Regions from separate parts of the Homo sapiens genome. Here region 2 is linked to region 1. Evidence: fine-mapped QTL for protein levels in blood plasma. A gene starts in region 1. The other region holds a variant in brackets. All regions are shown on one strand. Distances are from middle to middle.

Region 1 (9,806 bases):
GAACACCTCTGCCATGGTGTGGCAGGAGAGGAAGGCCTAGTGTGGCAAATCTCTGCCCTGAATAAAGCCCTCTATAATCCTACTCCACTGTATTCACTGAATCTCACCTCCCACAGACCATGCACACTCACACCTACACTCCCGTTGAGCAGTCCTCACTAATTTTACATGGTACACACTCTCCAACCCATCAACTTCCTTCTGATCCAATTCTTTTCATTAAAGACATCATCAGTTACTGTAAGTTACTGAAATAACCTCCTAATAGGTTTTGCACAGTCACTGTGGCTGCCCTACAAGCCACTCTGTTCTTCAGTAACACTTTTTTCCTTTTAAAGTTATTTACACCTTTACTACTGAAACTCAAAGTGTATGGTGGAGCAGCATCAGCATCACCTAGGTGCTTCTTAGAAATGCAGAATCTCAGGCCCCATCCCAGACCCACCTAAGCAGAAACAGCATTTAAAAAACTATATAGACTTTATTTTTTAGAGCTGCTTTAGGTTCATCGAAAAATTGAATGTAAAGTAACCCCCTCCCCACATATTCACAGCTTCCGCCACTGTCTACATCCTGCGCCAGGGCAGTACACTTGTTACAATCAATGAACCTACATTAACACATCATTACCACCCCAAATCTAGAGTTCACGATAGGGGTCACTCCTGGTATTGCATATTCTATGGATTTGGGCAAATTTATAATGACTTATATCTATCATTACAGTATTATGCAAAATAGATTCACTTCTCTAAAAAATTCCCTGTGCTAGAAACTGCAATTTAGCAAAACCCCCAGGCTATTGGTATGTGTAAAGAGTGAACAGAGCTGGGGTAGACCACGCCACTCTCCTGGGTAAAGCCCTTCCAGCTTCCTGAATAACATGCGGATTCATGATTATAACTCACAAGTGCTGCAGGGTCCGGTTCTTGCTCACTGGGCCAGTCCCTCCTCTGCTACTTCCCAGCTCACTGCCCCTTCTTGCTGGCAGAGGAAGACAGCACTTCCTCAGGCAGTGCCTGTGCCCTGCCTTCAAAGCACGTGGCTTTGTTTGTTGGCCACACTTTAACACATTCATTTGAGTGGCTATTGGATTACTTTTCCTCTTTCCAATGATAGTAAATTTCACAAATGCAAGAGCCATGTCCCCAGGACCAAGAAAAGTCTCTTGGTTTTAGGAGATGCTCATGTTTGTTGAATTAATAAATGATTAAACAAAAGAATGAACACCTGTGCCAGCCTCATCCTTACCTTTGTGCCTTTGTCCAGGCTGTTGCCCTGACCAGAATTCTCTCTCCATCATCCATCTGCCTCTGTAAAGCCTGCCCTCCTTCCTGCAGCCCAGTCTGTTACCCACTTTCCCAGATCTTGGGCTCCTACAATCAGGGCAAAGCATTTCATTGCTCTTTGCTTGTTCTACATGGGTTAGCTTTGCATTTCCGCAACTAACATATGCAGACCTCTTTGAGTGCAGGAATCCTAGCCTCAACTTTTATGGCCCACCTGGCACACAGTAGGTGCTTCATTGACTCAGTCACAGCAGCAGTAAAACCAGGATGTAGCTAGAGAACAAGGTGCTTTCCTAAACATCTTTCTTTAGCTCAAAGATCTCTTTCCACTTACCTCTGACCCTAATTTTCCTTGTACAATTTCTAAAGTCTGGGTTTTAATTTTTATTTTATGTCCTCTTTTACTTTTTTTATTGTTCTCCCTCTTTCTGTCTCTCCCCCTCCCTGCCCCCCTTATTTCTGGGAAGCCTGTACAAATTTCCTTCTATATATTTTAAACTCCTCTGTACTCCCCAGAAGACTAGTTTGGGAATGCTTCCCCAGCTCCCCAGAAGGAAATTGTAACTGTTGGAAATGTAATGTAACTGTCAAATATATAAAAAACCTGAGGTGTAAATTGTGAAATGTAGGCCATGTTTCTCTTGGTTCTGAAACAATGTAAAATAGCTCTGGACAGAAAATTTTAAATGACCACCATCGCAGTCAAGTAATCTGTGGGCCCCCAACTCCTCTTCTCTTCCCTCTACCTCTCTCTCACACCTCTGATATTCTAGGCAGTACTTTATGTGAGAAGTTTTTAAGACAAGGACCCTTAATAGTCGGGTCTTTGCAGACTGGCAAATCATGCTGGAGCCCAAACTTCTTTGTTTTTGGGAAACTGGGAAGTATGCTGCTCACTAGAAAACAGATCTTTTGTTTTCTGACTTAAAAAAAAAAATCAGAACCATCCTGCCAGCAGGGACAAGCCTCACCCTTCTTGACAGTCCCAAAAGTTCAGCACTCTTAAGATCACCTGAGCAGGAACAAAAGCCTCTAGAAGTCAAATTATTACTTTCAGGACATATATGTAATACCTATGTGGCAGATTAAAAATAACTAAAAACATAATTTTGTGTTAAATCTGATACCACTTAAAGTCAGATGCCAATGTTGAAAAAAGATCTCAGCATCCAAAGCAGAACAAATAAGATTAATGTATTAAGAGGAACTTAAGAAGGTTAAGAAGATGAATGTCATTAAGAGGAATTGTCCTCAACTACTCTCCCGCCTTCAGATTGGAAAGAAGATCACCATTGTTCAATTTTAGAAGCAGGACACTTTCGCTGAGCTGTATCATGAAAACATAGTTTGGGACTAGACTCCGAGGCCAGTATCGGCACATCACAAAATGTAAATGAGCATCTAATATTCATGGAAGAGACCATTATGAATCGGCTGTATGGTTTTGTTAAAATAACACTGTCCCTTCCACGCTTCCTTGAAGGCCTGGGTTCTTGAGTTAACTTGGTTGCTAACTTGCTGTGTGATGATAGGCAGGTCCTTTAACCTCTTTGGACCACAGTCTTCTAATCTTTAAAATCTTCTGAAAACACCCTGAAGGTTCCTTCCAGCTTATAGGATAATAGAAGGGAGCAGCTCAGAGAACCCCATGTCCTTTCTCTTAACCCTGTAGCAGTTGACTCAGTTAAGTTCCTGAAAGTTGCTTACCTGAACAGAAGTGAGAAAGACCAGCCAGCACCAAGAGCTGAAAGAAATTGAGGTATGGACACTTGGATGGTGATGTTCCCTGCCTCCGTGTGTGGCCCATGGCTTCAGATGCTTAGGGTCAAAAGTGAAAGCCAACAATTTGGACCCAAGTAAGACCAGGGCACTTCCCAGGTGCAAAACAGGCAGGGCTGATGACAATCCAATTGCTCACGTAGAAGACCCTCCAGTGATGTTTACAAAACACACAGAGATTGGAGGGTGTTCCTGGGTCTCCAAAGGTTGTGGATTTAGTTTCACAGCCTGAAAAAGGAACAAATAAAAGTCATTCAGGAAGGAAGGTGTGCCTACTTTGAGTTGCAAAACTCTCGAGTTGCCTGCTAAAATTAATTGGAGAGCTTAACCTAAGCAACCTCTAAAGCAGGGCGTGACCCTGAGGAAAAGCGAATGGAAATTCTGTGAGGGGACCAGTTCCAAGAACCAACCACAGCCCTTCCATGAAAAGGCTTTCTACTTAATAGGTGGGGTGAAGATTTGGTTAGAAACAGGAGAGCTCTAAGGACCCTCCATATCTGTTAGCCAACCTGCAAAAGTTCAAATCCTCTTCTGAACATACCAAGAAACATAGAGCAGACAGTAAGGGTGTATTTTGTCCAAGGCAGGACCTAAGTTATGAAACAACTTCTTTCTTGACATATTAACATAAGAAAACAAGTATCTCAATTCTTTAAACCCTCTACTCAAATAATATATCATAAAGGGGTATGAGATCTCAATAACCAGAAAAGTCTATCCATAAAAAGGGAGGGAAAAAAAGACACTGCAGACGTTACTTATCAAAATTATGTACTCCAGGGCCAGGCGTGGTGGCTCACGCCTGTAATCCCAGCACTTTGGGAGGCTGAGGTGGGCGGATTACTTGAGGCCAGGAGTTCCAGACCAGCCTGGCCAACATGGCAAAACCCCATTTCTACCAAAAATACAAAAATTAGCCAGGTGTGGTGGTGGGTGCCTGTAATCCCAGCCACTTGGGAGGCTGAGGCACGAGAATTGCTTGAATCCAGGAGGTGGAGGCTGCAGTGAGCCAAGATGATTGCAACACTGCACTCCAGCCTAGGCGACAGAGTGAGACTCCATCTCAAAAAAAAAAAAAAAAAAAATTATGTACTGTCATGTGAGGTGGCTAGGGATTAATTTTTCCAGTAAATATGTCAAAATTGAGAAATGAAAATAAACACTGTGCTCCACTGTCACCCCTTCAGGCTGCTACCAGGACACAGCCCCGTGCTGCTCAGAGAATGCTTGAGTGTCCTCTTTGGAGACCACCCTAGAGCTAGAGTTCCAGCCACGCCATATTGTTTTATTAGCCATCATCCATTTTAGACAGGATTAGTTAAAAGAGACTTATTCACCAGAATTTGTTTTTCTTAAGATAGAATCTTGCTCTGTCACACAGGCTAGAGTGCAGTGGCGTGACCATAGCTCACCACAGTCTCAACCTCCCGAGCTCAAGCGATTTTCCCACTTTCACTAGAATTTTACTGGCTTGAGAAATTCAAATACGGCCCACAAAAACAATATTTGCTAGGATCTAGGATATTTTAAAATAATGGGCCACAATTCTCACTATGATGCTCCAAATATGTCGGGAAGCCACAGCCTCCTGTGGGAATGAGACCCTAAGGGTTCCTTTGAGGGCAAGCCTGGATCCAGGAGGTGGTAGCAGAGGTATTGTTTGTTTAAAAAGCAGTGAGGTTGCTGGTAACTAGTTCTACCAAGCTATCCCATAGTAAGATAATAGTAAATGTACTTACTTGCTGAAGAAAAATTCCACTTTTTCTTTAAATCCTTTGATTTCAGGGTAAGACTCCACTTCTGAGATGTTCTCTTCTTACAGTCTATAAAGCAATGACAAATCACTTTTTCTTTGGGTAATCTTCAGAGAGGCGACATTTCCCCTTCTAACTTCTGTTACTTTACAGAGGGTTTGAGTTCACTCAGTACTTGTCAGTGCCAGGAGTTGGACAGGGTGTTTGAAGAAGCGCCCTCTGCTGCCGTCTTCTTCTAGTTGCTTTTGTAGAGGCTGTGGCTGGGGCAAATCACACAGCAGCCTCCCTCACCACCGTGCATGGACTAACAAACATGAAACACCACGAGCACCAGGCGGCCTAGGGGAGGAGAAGAATGGTGCCCGAGAAGAGTGAGGGGCATCTGGCTAGCCTTGCTGTGTGATGGGAGGCCAGCTTCATGGGCTGGCTGTTTCTGTGCTGGTCTCAAGTTTTGTTTTAGCACCCAGAGTTACTCCTGAGTCCCTGCAGGAATAAGCTGTCAACCTCATATGTAGGGGACACTTTTGGGAGAGTGCTCAGCTCACAGGACCACCCAACTCTACTCCCACCTCTGAATCCCACCATCTTCAGAGAGTGGGCTCCTGCCAGCCACGCTGGACAGTGAATTCTGGTCACCCTAGCCACAGTTGAGTGCGCCTCTGGTGGGATGAGGAAGACTTTAGTCATGCCCATCACTCCCATTTCCAACTAGGTTGCCACCCACCCCTGTGTGTCCCTTTGTAGGATTCTGGAGCCCCTGTGAGTGAGCAGCTGACCCATGCTGGACCAGTGTACTTGTTTGCACAGGTGGAACCTGACAGCACCTTGCATGGGTTGCAGTGAGCCGAGATCACAACACTACAATCCAGCTTGGGTAACAGAGCAAGACTCCATCTCAAAAAAAAAAAAAAAAAAAAGACGCCATCCTTCCCACACCAGCCAGAAAGAGAGCAAACCGTGTGGGTGAGAAATACTGACTACAGCGGCGGCTTCCTTCATCTCAGCAACAAGTTTGTGGCAGAGCTTAGTGGATACCACCCTATTCACCTGAGATTTGGAATACTGAAGCTTTGGAAATCATGAAGGCAGAACTTGCTATGAAAGGACTCCACTGCACTGTCTCCTTCTGTATTGGCAGAAGGGGCCTAGTGAGCACCCTTCTTCACCTGTGTCTTGTTCTGGTCTCAGATGCATATTTTGAATAGTTGCAAGGAATATGGATGTGACAATTCCTGCCTTACCTCTAGTAGATCAACATTACATTTTCAAGTAAAGGGAACATAGATTGGAGGTAAGTTCATGTTTTCTATTTTCTTGAACATTTATTCAGATCAAAGAAATGTTTTCACTGATTTTAGCCACTTCTACTTGATACATTATTACAATGCACTGGAAGTGATTTTTTTTCCAGGTATTTAAAGTAATAGAAAGTTATAGATGTCAACTTAAAAGAGCAAAGAAATACAGAGTTTTAGAAATTTATTTTCTTTTTTTTTTTTTAGATGAAGTCTTTCTCTGCCGCCCAGGCTGGAGTGCAGTGGTGCAATCTTGGCTCACTGCAACCTCCGCCTCCTGGGTTCAAGCAATTCTTCTGCCTCAGCCTCCTGAGTAGCTGGGACTACAGGCGTGTGCCACCATGCCAGGCTAATTTTTAAATTTTTAGTAGAGATGGGGTTTCACCATATTGGCCAGGCTGGTCTCAAACTCCTGACCTTGTGATCCACCCTCCTCGGCCTCCCAAAGTGCTGGGATTACAGGCATGAGCCACTGCACCCAGCCGAGTTTTAGAAATTTCATGAGGGACTACATGAATACAAATTTTGACGATCACAGACACCCTCAAATTTTAAGAATCCCAGTGAAATCCTAACCTGCCTTGGAGAAACACACATTAAACAACTTTGCCATTAGCGCTTTGATGTGACTTAATCAAAGAGGCTGGAAGAAAGGAACACCAGGAAGGTACTTTACAGAGTTTCCCCAATCCTGATTGTAAAATTCAGAAGGCTTCTCTTCCAAGATTATGTACTAATGGGATGTGTTTAATTCCTCTTCCTCCTACAATGTGTCTAGGAGCATGACCTGTGGACCACAGATTTCTAAGGTAAATTTCTGGACACTGGAGGTGAGATGGATGAAGACGGGCAAAGGAAGCCGAACCCGAATACCTATATTACTGGAAAACAAAACAAAACAAAACAAAACCAAGTAAAAGATTTAAAAGGAGGCTGGGCACAGTGGCTCATGCCTGTAATCCCAGCACTTTGAGAGGCTGAGGTGGGCGGATCACTTGAGGCCAGGAGTTCGAGGCCAGCTGGCCAACGTGATGAAACCCCAGCTCTCCAAAAAAAAAAAAAAAACCAAAAAACTGGGCATAGTGGTGCATACCTGTAATCCCAGCTACTGGGAAGGCTGAGACATGAGACTTGCTTGAACTTCAGAGGCGGAGGTTGCAGTGAGCTAAGATTGTGCCATTGCACTCCAGCCTGGGTGACAGAGCAAGATTCTGTTTCAAAAACAAAACAAAACAAAACAAAAAAACTTTAAATGAGTTTGTTCTGAGGAGCAGACCCAGGGTTGGAGAAGAATAAAGCAGGAATTACTGCTCCTCAGTGTAAATTCTTTAGTGCCACTTATTTTTTTGTAAATCCATCCTTGGCTTTACTGTAATAAAAGTAAAAGAAATTCTTTTAAAAATAATTCACATAAAAATTCTTTTAAAAATTTTTATGTGAAAAATTGAAAGGATAAATTTATGAAAGTATATTTTTATAATTCTAGGGTGAGCAAGACACAAAACTTGGAAGCCACGAAAAAAGAAAAGATACACAGATTTGAATTCATAAAAATTAAAAATATTTGTACAATGAAAGACATTATAAATGAAATGAAAACACAATCACAGACTGTAGAGGACCCAGCAGGAAGAGATGACGAGAGGGAGATGCAGCTTTGTCACTCAGAGGTTGGTGCAGAGGCTGTTGCGACACCGTAGGGGAAGCCTGGCCCTTTGCTTTACCCCTGAACAGGATGATCTCTGTGGAAATGAAGGTTCCATCTTTCTGCTCTTGACCTTGGAGCCACTTCACCTCCTCATGCTGATAAAGCTGGCCTGAGCTCAACCTTCCTACCCTTCCGTTCAGCATCCACAGGGAGGGCTGGGCTGGCTCCTGGCAGTGGCCTCAGTGCTGTCATTTGCAGGTTGCCTACTCAGGGCCCACGGTGCTAGCCTGACTGCTGGGAAAACCCCTTTCCCACAGTGGGCTCACTGTTGCCAAGTAAACAAAACCTGTTGCACTGACAAAAATTTTCAGGGGAGTTTTTCATGTTCTAAGATGACCCTCCCGTGAGGTTTAGAAGTTCATTTTTAGATATGACTTCATCTGGGCATGTCTATAAGGCCTGCACCCATCATAGGGCAGCTGATCTAGGCTTTAAGGCTATGGTGCTCCCCAGGAGTGCCACAGCCTGCTAAAGTTGGCAGCAAACTCATCAAAGTGGGAGAGTTCACCTCTTCCTCTTAAAATGCTGTCACATTCTTTCTGGTTCTTTGAGATGGAAATCACCAAAATGCTTAAAATGAAAACAAGTGACTTTCAGAGCTAGCCCTCGTTCAGAGTGAGGGCCGTCTTCTTACTAACCCACCACACACTCTTCCTCCTATACTTGGCATCTTACTCTTCCTGCCTGTGACTCTTTTTTTTTAATTAATTTTTTTATTATCAATTTTTGTTTATTATTCTACTTTAAGTTCTAGGGTACATGTGCACAATGTGCAGGTTTGTTACATATGTATACACGCTCCATGTTAGTGTGTTGCACCCATTAACTCGTCATTTACATTAGGTATATCTCCTAATGCTATCCCTCCCCCCTCCCCCCAGCCCATGACAGGCCCCCGTGTGTGATGCTCCCCTTCCTGTGTCCAAGTGTTCTCATTGTTCAATTCCCACCTATGAGTGAGAACATGTGGTGTTTGGTTTTTTGTCCTTGTGATAGTTTGCTGAGAATGATGGTTTCCAGCTTCATCCATGTCCCTACAAAGGACATGAACTCATCCTTTTTTCTGGCTGCATAGTATTCCATGGTGTATATGTACCACATTTTCTTAATCCAGTCTATCATTGATGGACATTTGGGTTGGTTCCAAGTCTTTGCTATTGTGAATAGTGCCACAATAAACATACGTGTGCATGTGTCTTTAGAGCAGCATGATTTATAACCCTTTGGGTATATACCCAGTAATGGGATGGCTGGGTCAAATGGTATTTCTAGTTCTAGATCCTTGAGGAATCGCCACACTGTCTTCCACAATGGTTGAACTAGTTTACAGTCCTGCCAACGTGTAAAAGTGTTCCTATTTCTCCACATCGTCTTCAGCACCTGTTGTTTCCTGACTTTTTAATGATCGCCATTCTAACTGGTGTGAGATGGTGTCTTATTGTGGTTTTGATTTGCATTTCTCTGATGGCCAGTGATGATGAGCATTTTTTCATGTGTCTGTTGGCTGCATAAAAGTCTTTTTTGAGAAGTGTCTGTTCATATCCTTTGCCCACTTTTTGATGGGGTTGTTTTTTCTTGTAAATGTGTTTGAGTTCATTGTAGATTCTGGATATTAGCCCTTTGTCAGATGAGTAGATTGCAAAAATTTTCTCCCATTCTGTAGGTTGCCTGTTCACTCTGATGGTAGTTTGTTTTGCTGTGCAGAAACTCTTTAGTTTAATTAGATCCCATTTGTCAATTTTGGCTTTTGCTGCCATTGCTTTTGGTGTTTTAGACATGAAGTCCTTGCCCATGCCTATGTCCTGAATGGTATTGCCTAGGTTTTCTTCTAGGGTTTTTATGGTTTTAGGTCTAACACTTAAGTCTTTAATCCATCTTGAATTAATTTTTGTATAAGGTGTAACGAAGGGATCCAGTTTCAGCTTTCTACATGTGGCTGGCCAGTTTTCCCAGCACCATTTATTAAACAGGGAATCCTTTC
Region 2 (12,407 bases), 13 kb after region 1:
CTAAATTTCAGAGCCTGTTATTTAAGGATTTAGGGATTTAACTTCTTCCTGGTTTAGTCTTGGGAGGGTGTATGTGTCCAGGAATTTATCCATTTCTTCTAGATTTTCTAGTTTACTTGCATAGAGGTGTTTATAGTATTCTCTGATGGTAGTTTGTATTTCTGTGGGATCGGTGGTGATATCCCCTTTATCATTTGATATTGTGTCTATATGATTCTTCTCTCTTTTCTTCTTTATTAGTCTTGCTAGTGGTCTATCAATTTTGTTGATCTTTTCAAAAAACCAGCTCCTGGATTCATTGATTTTTTGAGGGTTTTTGTGTCTCTATCTCCTTCAGTTCTTCTCTGATCTTAGTTATTTCTTGCCTTCTGCTAGCTTTTGAATGTGTTTGCTCTTGCTTCTCTAGTTCTTTTAATGGTGATGTTAGGGTGTCAATTTTAGATCTTTCCTACTTTCTCTTGTGGGCATTTAGTGCTATAAATTTCCCTCTACACACTGCTTTAAATGTTTCCCAGAGATTCTGGTATGTTGTGTCTTTGTTCTCATTGGTTTCAAAGAATATCTTTATTTCTGCCTTCATTTTGTTATGTACCCAGTAGTCACTCAGGAGCAGGTGTTTCAGTTTCCATGTAGTTGAGTGGTTTTGAGTGAGTTTCTTAATCCTGAGTTCTAGTTTGATTGCACTGTGGTCTGAGAGACAGTTCGTTATAATTTCTGTTCTTTTACATTTGCTGAGGAGTGCTTTACTTCCAACTATGTGGTTAATTTTGGAATAAGTGCTATGTGGTGCTAAGAAGAATGTATATTCTGTTGATTTGGGGTGGAGAGTTCTGTAGATGTCTATTAGGTCTGCTTGGTGCAGAGCTGAGTTCAATTCCTGGATATCCTTGTTAACTTTCTGTCTCGTTGATCTGTCTAATGTTGACAGTGGGGTGTTACAGTCTCCCATTATTATTGTGGGGGAGTCTAAGTCTCTTTGTAGGTCTCTAAGGACTTGCTTTATGAATCTGGGTGCTCCTGTATTGGGTGCATATATATTTAGGATAGTTAGCTCTTCTTGTTGAATTGAGCCCTTTACCATTATGTAATGACCTTCTTTGTCTCTTTTGATCTTTGTTGGTTTAAAGTCTTTTTTATCAGAGACTAGGATTGCAACCCCTGCCTTTTTTTGTTTTCCATTTGCTTGGTAGATCTTCCTCCATCCCTTTATTTTGAGCTTATGTGTGTCTCTGCATGTGAGATGGGTCTCCTGAATACAGCACACTGATGGGTCTTGACTCTATCCAATTTGCCCGTCTGTGTCTTTTAATTGGAGCATTTAGCCCATTTACATTTAAGGTTAATATTTTTGTGTGTGAATTTGATCCTGTCATTACGATGTTAGCTGGTTATTTTGCTCGTCAGTTGATGCAGTTTCTTCCTACCATCAATGGTCTTTACAATTTGGCATGTTTTTGCAGTGGCTGGTACTGGTTTTTCCTTTCCATGTTTAGTGCTTCCTTCAGGAGCTCTTTTAGGGCAGGCCTGGTGGTGACAAAATCTCTCAGCATTTGCTTGTCTGTAACGGATTTTATTTGTCCTTCACTTATGAAGCTTAGTTTGGCTGGATATGAAATTCTGGGTTGAAAATTCTTTTCTTTAAGAATGTTGAATGTTGGCCCCCCACTCTCTTCTGGCTTATAGAGTTTCTGCTGAGAGATCCGCTATTAGTCTGGTGGGCTTCCCTTTGTGGAAAACCCGACCTTTCTCTCTGGCTGCCCTTAACAGTTTTTCCTTCATTTCAACTTTGGTGAATCTGACAATTATGTGTCTTGGAGTTGCTCATCTCGAGGAGTAACTTCATAGTGTTCTCTGTATTTCTTGAATTTGAATGTTGGCCTGTCTTGCTAGGTTGGGGAAGTTCTCCTGGATAATATCCTGTAGAGTGTTTTCCAACTTGGTTCCATTCTCCCCATCACTTTCAGGTACACCAATCAGACGTAGATTTGGTCTTTTCACATAGTCCCATATTTCTTGGAGGCTTTGTTCATTTCTTTTTACTCTTTTTTCTCTAAACTTCTCTTCTTGCTTCATTTCATTCATTTCATCTTCCATCACTGACACTCTTTCTTCCAGTTGATCTAATCGGCTACTGAAGCTTGTGCATTCGTCATGTAGTTCTCGTACCACGGTTTTCAGCTCCAACAGGTCATTTAAGGACTTCTCTACACTGGTTATTCTAGTTAGCCATTTGTCTAATCTTTTTTCAAGGTTTTTAGCTTCTTTGAGATGGGTTCAAACTTCTTCCTTTAGCTCGGAGAAGTTTGATCATCTGAAGACTTTTTCTCTCAACTGATCAAAGTCATTCTCCATCCAGCTTTGTTCTGTTGCTGGTAAGGAGCTGCATACCTTTGGAGGGGGAGAGGCGCTCTGATTTCTAGAATTTTCAGCTTTTCTGCTCTGTTTTTTCCCCATCTTTGTGGTTTTATCTACCTTTGGTCTTTGATGATGGTGACCTTTGATGATGGTGGGGTTTTGGTGTGGATGTCCTTTCTGTTTGTTAGTTTTCCTTCTAACAGTCAGGACCCTCAGCTGCAGGTCTGTTGGAGTTTGCTGGAGGTCCACTCTAGACCCTGTTTGCCTGGGTATCAGCAGCGGAGGGTGCAGAACAGCGAATATTGCTGAACAGCAAATGATGCTGCCTGATCGTTCCTCTGGAAGTTTTGTCTCAGAGGGGTACCCAGCTGTGTGAGGTGTCAGTCTGTCCCTACTGGAGGGTGCCTCCCAGTTAGGCTACTCGGGGGTCAGGGACCCACTTGAGGAGGCAGTCTGTCCATTCTCAGATCTCAAACTCCACGCTGGGAGAACCACTACTCTCTTCAAGGCTGCCAGACAGGGACATTTAAGTCTGCAGAGGTTTCTGCTGCCTTTTGTTCAGCTATGCCCTACCCCCAGAGGTGGAGTCTACAGAGGCAGGCAGGCCTCCTTGAGCTGTGGTGGGCTCCACCCAGTTCGAGCTTCCCGGCCGCTTTGTTTACCTACTCAAGCCTCAGCAATGGCGGGTACCCCTACCCCAGCCTCGCTGCTGCCTTGCAGTTCGATCTCAGACTGCTGTGTTAGCAATGAGTAAGGCTCCGTGGGCGTGGGACCCTCCGAGCCAAGCTCGGCATATAATCTCCTGGTGTGGCATTTGCTAAGACCATTGGAAAAGTGCAGTATTAGGCTGGGAGTGACCCGATTTTCCAGGTGCCGTCCGTCACCACTTCCCTTGGCTAGGAAAGGGAATTCCCTGACCCCTTGCCCTTCTCGGGTGAGGCGATGCCTCACCCTGCTTCGGCTCTCGCTCAGTGGGCTACACCCATTGTCCTGCCCCCACTGTCCGACAAACCCCAGTGAGATGAACCCAGTACCTCAGTTGGAAATGCAGAAATCACCTGTCTTCTGTGTCGCTCACGCTGGGAGCTGTAGACTGGAGCTGTTCCTATTCTGCCACCTTGCCTCATAATCCTTGCCTGTGACTCTTGACACACTGTCCCCCAACTTCCTTGGCTGCCTTTCCCCATTCTCTCTGCCCATCTAAACATCTTTCTTCCTCAAAGGACCAGGCCAAATGCCATTTCCCCAAGAAGCTTTCCTGACTCTTCTAAATCTCCATCTGCTCTTTCCCTTCTCTGAGATCCTATGTCTGTGCCACTCATTTGGCATCATTCCAATCCCTCCCCACCCCCCCAAATTTATTGAGTGCCTACTATGTGCCTGGAAGGGTTCAAACATTGGGGAAGCAAAATGGCTTGACTAGGAGAGATAAGGACAACATGGACCGATCCTAAGAAAAAGAAACAGTAGCAGAAAAAGAGCAGGGCAGCTAGCTGAATTTAAGTCTGCAGTGTGGCGAAAATGCCAACAAAATATTGCGAGACATGAGTGGCAATATGACATACCATGGCCAGAAATTATCTTTTTGGATTCTTTCTACATGAACCCAGATCCTTATTGGAATATTACGTCCAATTTCAAACTAAATGTGGAGAGGATCCGGCAGAAAGTAACAAACAATAACAAAAAGGATGCTAAACCAGGCAGCTCAGAGAACAGAGGAATGGGGAGCCAAGATGTTTTAGATGGGCCAAATGATTTTGAGGCCTTTGGTAATGATCCTCTGTGGCTTTGAGGTGTTTCTGTTTCTTTGTTTTGAGCTAGTCATGGCCATAAATGCCTTCTACATCTGTAGGCGACCAAACTGGAGAAAATAATCTACATGTAAGCAGGATAAATTTTGATTGTGTTTAAGGAAGCATTTTTTTTGTGTTGAAGCTGGAAAAGGTGACTTTCAAAGAAGGTTGCAAATTTTTATTGCCTGATGCTTTAAGAAGAGAAGAGACAAATCCTGTTTGGGGAAAACAGAGATTTCTCTGCCTGAGAGTAAGGGACTATGGTGGAATCCCAGGCAGTCCACGATTCTAGGACCTGAGGCGTTAAATGTCACTGCCACTGGCTGCCACTCCCCTGCCCTGCCACACTGTCCACCAGAACCACTAACGAAGTTACAAAAGTCACCCTTTTCAGTTTCTATTTCATTTTCCCTGTCCCCTGAGAAACAGGAACCAAGGACTAGGCAGTAGGAGAAGCCAGACATGATCTATGCTTTCAAAGTGGGTCACCATGGCGTGAATGAATTAGAGCTGAAGGGTCATGGAAACAGCCTGTTCCTCCTCCCTCTCTCCTCCCCAGCTCTGTCCCCCACTTCTTCCTTTTTTTGTATTATTCTGAAAAGTGAATCAAACAGTTGCCATTTTTTTTATATTACGTTGGTCCACAACGTCAAAGGTCATGGTTTCCAGATTTCGGAAAAGGAATTTGATTCTGTTCCTAAAATTAAAGAGAAATTGCAAGGCTTGGATGGAAAGGGGAAGTTCCCCTTCAATAACTCTTTCTAGAAGGGTCAACATTTAAAACTTAACGTGTGGCCGGGTGCAGTGGCTCACGCCTGTAATCCCAGCACTTTGGGAGGCCAAGGAGGGTGGATCACTTGAGGTCAGGAGTTTGAGACCAGCCTGGCCAACATGGCAAAACCCCATCTCTACTAAAAATTTAAAAATTAGCTGGGCATGGTGGTGGGTGCCTGTAATCCCAGCTACTCCGGAGGCTGAAGCATGAGAATCGCTTGAACCTGGGAGATGGAAGTTGCAGTGAGCTGAGATTGAACAATTGCACTCCAGCCTGGGCAACAGAGTGAGACTCTGACTCAAAAAAAAACAAACAAACAAACAAACAAAAAAAGTTAACCTTATGTAGATATTTACCTATTATTTGAATACGAGAAGGAATTTGACCACTTGAGGGCCTGATTTATACAAGTACCACATGATGAAGAACAGGATTTTATGGAGTGAAGATCCTTAACAGCACTCTCAGATTGAATCTCTCCTGAGCCTTGAACTGATTTCTCCAGTGGCCACTGGGGTTGCGTGACTCCTCCAATGGCCCCAGACACAACTAAGAAATGTGCCTAAACTGGCTGCCATTTGAAACCTTTTGGTGTCCTTTGTTTAGATGCCCCACCCTAAACTTCAGGAGTTCTCTCCAGAGAGTAATTTTAGGAATGAATGCCAGAGACCAAGGGATGAGGGACTGTTGCCTCATCAGAGGGGGAAGGAGCTTGCTGGAAAAACAAGAGGAACAAAATGTCCCCTGACTAGATTTTTCTTTACCTTTTGTCTCAAGGACTCTTCTAGAAATAGAAATAAGAGTAGATTCATGTACATTTGCCCAGGTTGACCCCAGTGGAGGAATTGTGGGGCAGAAAGAATGATAACATGAAAGAAAGATAATTTCAGTAAGGCCCCCCAAACTTTTGGTTTAGGGAGCAGTCACTTTTTGTTTCCTAGAAGCTGTATTTTCACCTACTGAGATTCTAGCAGGCAGTGAAGTCCCCTTAGGATGGGACCGTGTGCAAGAGCATTGCTGTTTCATTGTAAACCCTGGAAGCGGAACTTAGGACTCAGCTGGCCAGCTGAGCTTCT[C/A]TTCCTGTGGGAAATCCCAGCGAAACCAGGAGAAAGGGAGCAACAGAGGTCATCTGCCAGGAAATGTACCAAAGAAGATTTGAAAATTACTGGTGGATCTCCAGAGCAAAGGCTGGAAAGCCCTGACCTACAGGAGCGGGCTACTGCATTGTTGGGAGGAGCAGGATTCACATCCACATGGACTTCCCTCGGGTCTCTTTCTGCTCTGCAGAGAGGGGTGGAAGCTGCTCCTAGGGTTTTTTTTTTGTTTTTTGTTTTTTGTTTTAAGATGGAGTCTCGGTCTGTCGTCCAGGCTACAGTGTAGTGGCACGATCTTGGCTCACTGCAACCTCTGCCTCCCAGGTTCAAGCGATTCTCCTGCCTCAGCCTCCCGAGTAGCTGGGATTACAGGCATGCACCACCATGCCCGGCTAATTTTGTATTCTTAGTAGAGAGGAGGTTTCACCATGTTGGCCAGGCTGGTCTTGAACTCCTGACCTCATGATCCGCCTGCCTCGGCCTTCCAAAGTGCTGGGATTACAGGTGTGAGCCACCGCACCTGGCCACTCCTAGGTTTTAAAACACCGGTTTGTATCCACTTATCTCTTTTGCTCCTCTCCATATAGTCTCCCATCTCTACCTCTTGCTATATTTGATTCCTGCCTGCTTGTTAGAATTACGGTGCATATCTTAGATTTTTCTTTAAATACCACTTTTAGACTGTCATCAACAAGAGGCTTAAGGCTCTTTGGGAGTGGGATATAGAATATTTATTTATTTATTTAGAGACAGGTTCTCACTCTATCACCCAGGCTACTGTGCAGTTGTGTGACCCTAGCTTATTGTAACCTTGAACTCTCAGGCTCAAGCAATCCTCCTGCCCCAGCTTCCTCAGTAGCTAGGACTACAGGTGTGCACCACCACACCTGGATAATTTTATTTATTTATTTATTTTGTAGAGACAGGGTCTCACTTTATTGCACAGGCTGGTCTTGAACTCCTGGGCTCAAGTGATCCTCCCACCTCTGCCTCCCAACGTACTGGGTTTATAGGCGTGAGCTGCGCCCAGCAAATATTTTAAAAATTAGACTCAGGAGGTTCAAATCTTTCATAGGTGTTTAGTCTATCATGTCATTTCAATTTTTTTCTAAGTGACAGTAGAAGGAATGGAAGAAGTCCTGGCTGGGAGTTCAGAGGGCATGGGCTCCAGGCCCACTTCTCTCCATGTGTGAAACTGAGTTATATAAACTCTGAGTAACTGTCTTCACTGGCCTCAGCTTCCTCCCTAGAAAGTTATTGTCAGCTGGGCACGGTGCCTAATGCCTATAATCCCAGCACTTTGGGAGGCTGAGACAGGTGGATCACTTGAGGTCAGGAGTTCAAGACCAGCCTGGCCAACATGGTGAAACTGCCTCTCTACTAAAAATACAAAAATTAGCTGGGCGTGGTGGCGATCGCCTGTAATCCCAGCTACTTGGGAGGCTGAGGCAGGATAATTGCTTGAACCTGGGAAATAGAGGTTGCAGTGAGCTGGGATTGCACCACTGCCCTCAGGCCTGAGTGACAGAGCCAGACTCCGTCTCAAAAAAAAAAAAAAAAAGAAACTTATTGTCAACTGAAAATTCACAAGGTTTATAAATCTGGAAAAGAGAGCTTTATTTTTATAAAGGGTTGCAGACGGCAGGATGGCCATTCTCAGTCTGGGAAGTGTAGCCTTCCAGCCAGAAGCCAAAAAGAGGCACCTCCAGGGAAAGGCAAAGGGAACAGGAATGTATGCTGAGCAGAGCAGCCAAGTACACATATTTATTTATTTATTTATTGAGACAAGGTCTCACTCTGTCACCCAGGCTGGAGTGCAGTGGCACAATCTCAGCTCACTTCAACCTCCACCTCCCAAGTTCAAGCGATTCTCGTGCCTCAGCCTCCCAAGTAGGTAGGATTACAAAAATACATGTATTTAATAAACTATAGGAGGAGTCATGAATATTTATGAAAGGAGAAACATGTGCATGTGCAACTGAGCGTCATGCCCCTTCAAGAGTCCCTTTTACAAAAAATGGCAGCATTAGCATGATCTGAGGGTGGAGTTCTCGGCCCTCTGATGTTAAAAGGTGAAGCAGAGGACACAAAAACCCTCACTGCAGGTCCTCTGTAGGCTGGCCAGAACCAATCTGTGATTGGTGGTCTCTTATCAGGGCAGAATGATGGTCAGTTGTGTCAAAACTGCAAAAGGAAGGGACAGCAGTCACGTGGTTGGTTGAAATCAGCGGTGAAGTCTGAGCCTGTTTTCCTTGATGAGCTGATCTTCTGGATGCCGTCTCTGAACACCCTGACTGAGCTGATACCATTAACTCTCTCATAGTTGCCAACCATGTACCTTGAACATTCTCTGCTTCCATACTCCTCACGGCCTCGTGCCATTATACTGTACAGTGTCTTCTCTCCTTGTGTGATTTTTGCCCTACCTCTGTAGGTGCAAGAAGCGCCAAGCATGTGCTTGGCTGGCACATTTTGTTTATTTATTTATTTATTTTTATTATTTTTCAGTCAGAGTTTTGCTCTTGTTGCCCAAGCTGGAGGAGTGCAATGGTGCAATCTTGGCTCACTGCAACCTCCGCCTCCCAGGGTCAAGCAATTCTCCTGCCTCAGCCTCCCAAGTGGCTGGGATTACAGTCACCCGCCACCATGCCCAGCTAATTTTTGTATTTTTAGTAAAGAAGGGATTTCACCCTGTTGGCCAGGCTGGTCTTGAACTCCTGACCTCAAGTGATCCGCCCGCCTTGGCCTCCCAAAGTGCTGGGATTACAGGCGTGAACCACCGCGCCAGACTGGCTGGCACATTTTAGATACTGTATTAGTCAAGTTTCTTCTGAGAAACAGAACCAATAGGATGGACACACACACACATGCAGAGAAAGAGAGTTTACTTTAAGGGATTGGCTTATACAATTGTGGAGGCTGGCAGGTTCGACAGGGTAGGCCAGCAGGCTAAAGACCCAGGAAAGAGTTGCAGCTCGAGTCTAAAGGCAGTCTGGCAGAATTCTCTCTTCCTTGGGGGAGGCGAGTCTTTTTTCTATTAAGGCTTTCAACTGATTGGAATGAGGCTCATCCACATTAGGGAGAGTAATCTGCTTTACTCAAAGGCTACTGATTTAGATGTGAATCTCATCTTAAAAAATACCTGCACAGAAACATCTAGAACAATGTTTGACCAAATATCTGGGCACTGTGGCCTAGCTAGGCTGACAAAATTAGCCATCACAGATGCTCTCTAAATCTTCTTGAATTGAATTGACAACACAGGATATGTGAGCAGCTACTTTTGGTTACTTATCTTCAAACTCATCAAGTTGTATACCCGAAATATGTACAGCTTTTTGTATCTCAGTCATATCTCAATAACGTGATTTAAGAAAACATATAAACACTTTTTTGGTAATTTTAAAAATATGTTAGCAGCCGAAAAATGAGATCACTTGGGTGCTCTAGAAGAGCAGGGGCTGTCAGGGCCTAGCATATACTTACACAGCAGGTATTCAATGTCTGAAGAATGTATAAAGATCATTCTTGTAAGTGACCAGTTTGTTAAGAACAGTGTCATTGTTCCGACCTTATAGATGAAGTGTCTGAAATATCTTAAGATCAGGTCCGAGGGCTACAAGTTTATTTCTCAGCAACAGCCTCAGCATAGCAATTGATTCTGTATTGGTGAGTAATGAAGATGCCTATGATGTGTCTTCCTCAATAAAACTAAGAGCAAGGAACCAACTATGCAATATATTTGTCTTTCCAGGACCTATACTAATGCCTAGCACCTAGTAAGATGCCAAGTAACTATTTGTTCTTCTTGGCAGAACAACATTCACTGTTTCCTTTGCAAACAAACCCTGATTTTTGTAAAAGAACCTACCTCTACCTCTCAGGGAAGATGTGTCTATCCTTGATCTAAGGGAAACATCATAATCCAGCCTGCCTGCCAGGAATTGGTTTAGACTTCTGGAGGATCTTTGAGAATAGTTTCTTCATCTTGAAAGAAGAAACACTCTCTTTTTCCACTGGACACTGTCTATAACTGTAACTGCAATGTGTTATTATGCATACACATTATCTTGACTGCCTAGTTAAATAATCAGAGCTAAACAAAAATTTTCGAAGAAATTAACAGTAAATGGTTAATAGGCAACGCCTCTTGGGCTCGCTAGCAGACACAAAATAGCAAAATGGTTTAAACAAAAACAAACCGAAGGATAAGACCTCTATATACATTTGATAAAATAAATTAAAATGGGGAAAATATGATCTTGTGCCAATTAAAAACGTCAGTCTGGGGATAAAAATAACTGAAGATAGTAGGTCAGAAAGATAAGAAGAACAGGGTCTTTCTTTGATGATAGTATACAGTTGCTAAATTAACCCTGGGACTTCTTACCTTTAGACATTTTGTTACATAAGATAATAAGTGCCATTATTATTTAAGCCCAGTGAGTATGTGGTGTTTTGGGGGTGGGGAAGAGTGATGGTTATTTGCCGTTATTTGGAGCTGGAAACATGCTAACTGATAAATTATCCTTTTGGTTTATAGGACAATGTCCTTGATGCCCAAAAACATTTTCTAATTTTGACAGAAGAGAAAGGATGTCAGTAGGTGTTAACTAATGTGAAAAGAAGGTAGAATGGCTCATGTGTGTGATGGAGATGAGAACTGGGAATACAGAGAGATATCTGACCTGGTAGTAATTTTTTCTTGCATGACTACTACATTGATAAGCACTGTGCTAAAATTTTTCAATTAATTATTTCATGCAATCTTCAAACCAACTTTATGAAATATGTACTATTATTTTTCCTACTTAATAACAGAAAGTGAAGCTTAGCAAGATGAAGTGACTTGTCTAAAATCACTTACTCAAGCTAGTGTTTTTTGTTTGTTTGTTTTGTTTTGAGATGGAGTCTCACTCTGTCGCCCAGGTTGGAGTGCAGTGGCACGATCTCAGCTCACTGCAACCTCCGCCTCCTGGGTTCAAGCAATTCTCCTGCCTTGGCCTCCCGAGTAGCTGGGATTACAGGCACCCACCACCATGCCCGGCTAATTTTTTATTTTTAGTAGAGACAGGGTTTCACCATGTTGGTCAGGCTGGTCTCGAACTCCTGACCTCATGATCCACCTGCCTTGGCCTCCCAAAGTGCTGGGATTACAGGCGTGAGCCACCGTGCCTGGCCCCCAAGTGTTGTTACAAGGGTTTGAAACCAGATAGCGTGGATGTGTCGGGAGTCTATGCTAATGGTCACAAAGTTCATAGGCACCATAAAGTTCAAAGCAAACTAATTGCTAACAACCCCAGTTTTTCTGTTTGTTTTTGTTTGTTTGTTTGTGTTTTGAGACAGGGTCTTGCTCTGTCGTCCAGGCTGGAGTGCAGTGGCACAATCTCAGCTCACTGCAACCTCTGCTTCCTGGGCTCAAGCAGTCCTCCCACCTCAGCCTCCTGAGTAGCTCAGACCACAGGCGCATGCCTGGATAATTTTTGTATTTTTTGTAGAGAACAGGTTTCACCATGTTGCCCAGGCTGGTCTCGAACTCCTGGTCTCAAGCAATCTGTCCCCCTTGGCCTCCCAAAGTACTGGGATTACAGGTATGAACCACTGTGCCCAGCCCCAGTTATTCTTTACATTTAAGTCAAAAACGAAAACAAAAAATCACCCTTTCCCATGGATTCTCACAGAAAGATCACTACATAATATGAACAATATCCTCAGCAGACATCTTAAGCTGAAACTGTGTTGAGTTTTATCGGGATGCTTATTATTCAAAATGTCTCTTACTACAGAACTTGCTTTGACTGCATCCTCAGAGGCTGAAAATCTTTGACAGTTGAAAGAATGAAGGATGTGCCATCCCCAAATATGCCATATAATATATTGATTACTTTGAGTTGAAAACATTAGAGAAATTATAGTTTCAGAAAGGGTAAAACTGAGGGCTGACCTGATTAGGCCTGACACTTAATTTGCCTTGCTTGCTTTTGGTCACTTGCTTCTAGTCGATTTTAAAACCTGCATAGCTAAAAGTCATGTAGCTAGACGATACATAACTAAATTCCACTTGCCTCCTTATAGATAACTTCTCTGATAGGACACCATGGAAAATATTGCTTAAGTTATTTTTCAGGAACTTAGAGTCAGTTCTTGTCCAGTTCAAGCCACCAGCCCTTCATCTTGGCCTGCGTGAGTGTCCAATGGGTGACCTTTTGACATCAGAAGGCCCAAAACTCCACTCTCAGATCATGCTAACGTCACGATTTTGTGAACATGTGTTCTATGAACAGCCATGAAGATTGACTATGCTTGCTCAGATTACCGATTGCCTCACTTTTCCTTACCTCATCTTTCTCTGAACCTTGGACCACCTTCCTCCCCTATCCCATAAGC

Alleles and levels. Positions count from the first base shown, and alleles are read on the strand shown. Strength reflects both the effect of a copy and how common the allele is.
For the plasma level of the protein whose gene starts at base 4,982 in region 1, A is the low allele of the variant in region 2 and C is the other (moderate association).

Evidence for each region. A credible set is the group of variants that fine-mapping cannot tell apart. PIP is the chance, under the fine-mapping model, that this variant and not a neighbour inherited with it causes the effect. Protein levels are from antibody-based Olink assays in UK Biobank. Linkage for the fine-mapping came from a reference panel and not from the study's own genotypes, which makes the PIPs less certain.
Region 2: its variant is the best candidate, but not a certain one, in a credible set for the plasma level of the CD80 protein (UK Biobank, PIP 0.54).

What each region holds. Positions count from the first base shown.
Region 1 is chr3:119,554,633-119,564,438 of GRCh38, forward strand. CD80 (CD80 molecule) reads right to left here and starts at 4,982. Exons shown (of 7, transcript NM_005191.4): 1 at 4,808-4,982; 2 at 2,997-3,296. The coding sequence starts at 3,096. LOC107986118 (a long non-coding RNA gene) reads left to right here and starts at 5,798. Exons shown (of 2, transcript XR_001740861.2): 1 at 5,798-6,113; 2 at 7,604-7,694. RefSeq lists a silencer at 3,290-3,584 and enhancers at 3,290-3,584, 3,946-4,105, 4,376-4,435, 5,206-5,255, 7,737-8,326.
Region 2 is chr3:119,565,838-119,578,244 of GRCh38, forward strand. No RefSeq gene overlaps it. Among named protein-coding and RNA genes, the nearest start is that of ADPRH, 7.5 kb to the right of the region's middle. RefSeq lists an enhancer at 2,565-3,066. The variant C/A (reference allele first, on the strand shown) is at 6,003.